2 separate regions of the Homo sapiens genome follow, and region 2 is linked to region 1. Evidence: fine-mapped expression QTL. Tissue or cell type: iPS cells. Region 1 holds a variant in brackets; the other region holds the start of a gene. All regions are shown on one strand. Distances are between the middles of the regions.

Region 1 (2,692 bases):
ATTATGTTAAAGTGTTCCACGATGAATAGTGAATTGTTTCTCCTTGGATTTTGTCAATTTTTTGTGTCATATGTTTTAAGGCTATTTTATTTTATTAGATTCTTAACCAAATATAAATATGTGATATCTTTCTGCTAAATTGAAACTTTTAGCGTTATGTATTATTTACCTCTATTTCTGCTAGTGATAAACTATTATAGTTTTTGTTTGCCTGAAATGTCATTCTTGATAGATATTTTTACATGGGTGTAAAATTCAAGATTGGCATTTATTTCATTTTGGTACATTAAAGTTACCTCCTCAATATCTTCTGGGTTCCACTGTTGTCTCATTGTGCTGCTTCATCAGTAATTTATTATCTTTCTTCCAATTTTACTAATTTTGTCTTCTTGTGTGTCCAACATGCTATTAAAAGTATTCCTTGAGTTGTTAATTTTGGTTATTGTGTTTTTCATTTTAAAAATTATAATTATTACTGATCAAGTCTGCCATGATATTTTTTATAGGTTTCTGTTCCCTGCAATTTTTTTTTTCAAGACAAGTCTTGCTCCGTCGCTCAGGCGTGATCATAGCTCACTGCAATCTTGAATTCCTGGGCTCAAGTGATTCTCCTACCTTGGCTCCCAAAGTGTTGGGATTTCAGGCATGAGCCGCTGCTCCTGGCTCCTGCAAATATTCTTAAGCTTGTCATTTATTTATTTAAATATATTAAATCTTCATCTGATAATTCCAGAGTCTGAAGTCTGCAAGTGTATACCTGCTGTGTGCTGTTTCAGCTGGACAGCTCCATATTTTTATGTGTGCCAACTTTTATTTGACTTTTGATGGTCCATATCCTGAAAATGATATTTGCCAGGATATCCTGAGATCTTGGATGGAAATACCTTTCTTCACGATAGATTTTTATACACCTTCCAGTGAGTGAATACTACTGCTAGTAAACCACTTTAAATCAAGTTCAAGACTTGAAGCTCCTTGGCTACTTAGACTACGTATTCTCAGATAAAAATATGCAGGATATCTGGTATCTAGTTACAAGTTTATAGGATTAAATTTTCCTTTCCTATTTTCCTTCTGGCCTTTTTGGTGCCAAGTCAAATTCCCCAGCAGTTTTCTGGGCTGGAGAGTAGGTGGGTTTAGTTTTCACATACTATTACTGGAAAGATTAGTCCTTTGAAGTTCCAGCTTAATGTAGTTTGGAGGCCCCATAAGACTCCCCATCTTGAACATCCTGCTTCTTTTTTTTTCTTTCTTCCTTT[CT/C]TTCTTCCTTTCTTTCTTTCTTTCTTTCTTTCTTTCTTTCTTTCTTTCTCTTTCTTTCTTTCTTTCCTTCCTTCCTTTCTCTTTCTTTCTTTCTTTCTTTTTCTTCTTTCTCTTTTTTTTTTTTTTTCAGATGGAGTCTTGCTCTGTTGCCTAGGCTGGAGTGTAGTGACAGGATTTTGGCTCACTGCAACCTCCGCCTCCCGGGTTCAAGCAATTCTCTGCCTCAGCCTCGGGAGTAGCTGGGATTACAGGCGCCCACCACCACGCCTGGCTAATTTTTTGTATTTTTAGTAGAGACGAGGTTTCACCATCTTGACCAGGCTGGTCTTGAACTCCTGACCTCGTGATCCATTCGCCTCAGCCTCCCAAAGTGCTGGGATTACAGCCATGAGCCATGGTGCCCAGCCCATCCTGCTTCTTAATTTCTGTCTTCCTACAACTTATGTCCAATTTTATGTCAAGTTCAATATTCTGTTTACCTCTTTGGGCTTAGCTTTCCTCCACAATTTGTCCTAGCAGTTCCCCATTATCTTATCAGATTTTCAGTGCTTTTAAGATAATTGTTTTAATGTTTTACCCAAGAATATTTAGTTGATTTCAGTAGGATGACTGCTGTAAATAATTTAGGCTGCCATTACCTGATATTCCCTATCATAGAGTTCTATCACCAGTGACTAGCATCTAAGTAACATTGAAATGCTTTTATGTATATCTTAAAATATTTGAATTACTTTTGTTTTGAAAACAATAGTATCTTTACTTTCCCTAAACCTTGATAAGGGATTCATATCTCTTATTATTAATTTTGGGAAAAAATAATTCATAAACCTGGTCTATTATGAAATGTTTGCTAATTGAGCCAAGAGAGCACATGCATTCATCTAAAACATTCATATAATCAAACTTTATTAAAGGTGATATTTGTGGCTTTACTTGACATAAAACAGCTTCCATATTTCTCTATTCCAGACATTTTATTTAAAATACATTTTTGAGCATAAGATATTTAAAATGTGTAGGCAAATAAGATATCCATATCATTAAAAGATATCTAAAGCTGGTAATGGTGGCTCATGCCTGTAATCCTAGCTACTTGGGAGGTCGAGGCACAAGAATCACTTGAACCAGAGGGAGGCGGAGGTTGCAGTTAACGGAGATTGCACCACTGCATTCCAGCCTGGGCGACAGATGAGACTCTGTTTAAAAAAAAAAAAGATATCTAACAATAAACAAGTAAACTATCAATTATAATACAATCAAATTCAAGCTACAACTGAAATAAATACATGGTATCTAGGAAACTCAGAGGGGAAGCAACTAACTCAGTATGGTGGGGGGTAGGGGGTTGAGGCAGAAAAATCTTCCCATATAGGATGTCACATATAATTATAGTGTTTATATTTGCCAATTGTAAAAAAAAAAATGGCAAAAG
Region 2 (2,692 bases), 85 kb before region 1:
AAACTGATGGATTAAGTGACACCCATTTCTGTCAGTTTTCTTATTCATAAATATTGTTGCTCTGTCATTCAGATTTTAATAAAAAAAGTTTAAAGTAATTGACACATTTAAAAATATTCTTTAGAAAAGTCAAAACATCATTAAATAAAATAAATTAACCCTTGCATAAGACCAATATGTCTGTTGTTAAGTTTTCCTTTCTTGGAAAGACAGAAAACTCAAGTTTTTTTCAGCAGCACAGATATATTACATTTTCATTCCTGAATATTTGATTTCAAGAACTTTGAGAGAGAAAAAAATATTTTTACTGCAAGTGGTGATGAAAAACTTCACTGACATTGATAAAATTACTAGATATATTTCAGAACTGTGTCTTTTGGGCATTTGAAAAGCGTAAATATAACAGGGTTGAAAGCATTTGCCTCTGAAAGCAGAAATAATAAATTTCTTAATTACTTTATTCAGAATTATAATTAAGATTCTTTTTGCCCGTGTAAGATATTATAAAATGAAACTTCTTGTATAAAGGATTTTTCTGTAATAGTACTTTTCTGTTTTCTTAAATACAGAAACCACCACTCTCAGCCTGTGCAGTAGCAATAATTAAGGCATTCTATAGGTAATAATTTTGCCTGATGAGCCAAATTTGGTATTGAGCCTCATGAAAACAAATGTGGCCAAATTGAGGCCTGAGAATAGTTTCCATTTATGAAGCACTCATTCTCCTTAAGGTACTATTGCAAGCACTTACTATATTATAATTCACTCAACCACCGTATTACTATTAGGCCAAAGTTATAAAATTGGAACATGAGGGAGGGAGAGGTTAAACGATTTTCCCAAGTCATGTGGCTAGTGAGTAGGATAATAGGAATCTAAATGGAGAAATGTCTGATGTTGAAGCTAATGATCTCTAAATTCTAGTGATGACTAGATCTTCGGAGTTATAAACACCTCACAGATAGTTGATGCTTGACATTAGTGTCTAAATAAACCTTATTAAATCTCAAAATAATGAGAAAGAGAAGTAAGTTAAGTGTCAGAACTTAAATGGAACTAAAGTTGTCATTTAATAAAATATTAGTATACTCAGTAGTATGCAAATATTAAGGGCATTTTGAAATTCGGCTATTGATAATCATGTGGTTAGGGAAGAAATCACTACTCTGAGAGTCTACATTTAAGAAAACATTGCACGTGGGATCAACATTTATTGTTATTAACTATAAAGAGACGTAATGTGAGGCTTTGAAAGTCCATAGACATAAAAATACGTAAAAAAAGAATTAACATATGAATGAAAGAAAAGTTGTGAACTCATGGAATCGTACTTACACCTAAAGCCACCGGATGTCGCTGTCGTCCACAAAATAGCTTTTTAGAACAAAGGCATCAGCCAGTTTCTCAAGGACTAGGAAGTAGCGTCATTCTGAGATCTCAGCCATTTCGATAAAAAATAGATATAAGAAATAGGACAGAAAATGTCAGATCGTATGTGCGTTCTAGACCGCTGATTCGTCGATTTGTAAAACAAGAGAAGGATAAGATGGTTTCCAGATGTAGCTGCCTGGGGGTCCAGTGTCTGCTGCTCTCGCTTCTTCTCCTCGCAGCCTGGGAGGTGGGGAGCGGCCAGCTCCACTACTCAGTCTACGAGGAGGCCAGACACGGCACCTTCGTGGGCCGCATCGCGCAGGACCTGGGGCTGGAGCTGGCGGAGCTGGTGCAGCGCCTGTTCCGGGTGGCGTCCAAAAGACACGGGGACCTTCTGGAGGTAAATCTGCAGAATGGCATTTTGTTTGTGAATTCTCGGATTGACCGCGAGGAGCTGTGCGGGCGGAGCGTGGAGTGCAGCATCCACCTGGAGGTGATCGTGGACAGGCCGCTGCAGGTTTTCCATGTGGACGTGGAAGTGAAGGACATTAACGACAACCCGCCCAGGTTCTCCGTAACAGAACAAAAGCTCTCAATACCTGAATCCAGACTGCTTGACTCTCGATTTCCACTAGAAGGCGCATCTGATGCGGATGTTGGAGAGAACGCATTGCTTACTTACAAACTCAGTCCAAATGAGTATTTTGTTCTTGATATTATAAACAAAAAAGACAAAGACAAATTCCCAGTGCTTGTTCTGCGGAAGCTGCTGGATCGTGAAGAAAATCCTCAGCTAAAGTTGTTGTTGACAGCAACTGATGGAGGCAAACCTGAATTTACCGGATCTGTTTCTCTGCTGATCCTGGTGTTAGATGCCAATGATAACGCCCCTATCTTTGACAGACCGGTTTATGAAGTTAAGATGTATGAAAATCAAGTGAACCAAACATTAGTAATACGGCTCAACGCTTCTGATTCGGATGAAGGAATAAACAAGGAAATGATGTATTCATTTAGCTCTTTGGTCCCACCCACGATAAGAAGGAAATTTTGGATAAACGAAAGGACGGGAGAAATAAAAGTAAATGATGCTATTGACTTTGAGGACAGTAACACTTATGAAATTCATGTAGATGTTACAGATAAGGGAAACCCACCTATGGTTGGTCACTGCACGGTCCTAGTGGAACTACTGGATGAAAATGATAATTCACCTGAGGTGATTGTCACTTCTCTGTCTCTCCCAGTGAAAGAAGATGCTCAAGTGGGCACCGTCATTGCCCTAATCAGCGTTTCTGACCATGATTCAGGAGCCAACGGA

Direction of the effects. Positions count from the first base shown, and alleles are read on the strand shown. Sizes are in standard deviations (SD) of each study's normalised expression.
For the expression in iPS cells of the gene that starts at base 1,395 in region 2, C is the low allele of the variant in region 1 and CT is the other (large effect, 0.91 SD a copy in HipSci).

What was found. PIP is the estimated chance that this variant, and not a neighbour inherited with it, causes the effect.
Region 2: PCDHA10 starts here. The variant in region 1 is the best candidate, but not a certain one, in a credible set for the expression of PCDHA10 in iPS cells (HipSci, PIP 0.87).

Annotation. Positions count from the first base shown.
Region 1 is chr5:140,939,948-140,942,639 of GRCh38, forward strand. The region is part of intron 1 of PCDHA1 (protocadherin alpha 1); the gene reads left to right. The region is part of intron 1 of PCDHA2 (protocadherin alpha 2); the gene reads left to right. All of the region lies in intron 1 of PCDHA3 (protocadherin alpha 3), which reads left to right. All of the region lies in intron 1 of PCDHA4 (protocadherin alpha 4), which reads left to right. It also overlaps PCDHA5, PCDHA6, PCDHA7, PCDHA8, PCDHA9 and PCDHA10, and 5 more genes. Among named protein-coding and RNA genes, the nearest start is that of PCDHAC1, 15 kb to the left of the region's middle. The variant CT/C (reference allele first, on the strand shown) is at 1,260.
Region 2 is chr5:140,854,503-140,857,194 of GRCh38, forward strand. PCDHA10 (protocadherin alpha 10) reads left to right here and starts at 1,395. Exons shown (of 4, transcript NM_018901.4): 1 at 1,395-2,692. The coding sequence starts at 1,547. The region is part of intron 1 of PCDHA1 (protocadherin alpha 1); the gene reads left to right. All of the region lies in intron 1 of PCDHA2 (protocadherin alpha 2), which reads left to right. The region is part of intron 1 of PCDHA3 (protocadherin alpha 3); the gene reads left to right. It also overlaps PCDHA4, PCDHA5, PCDHA6, PCDHA7, PCDHA8 and PCDHA9, and 1 more gene.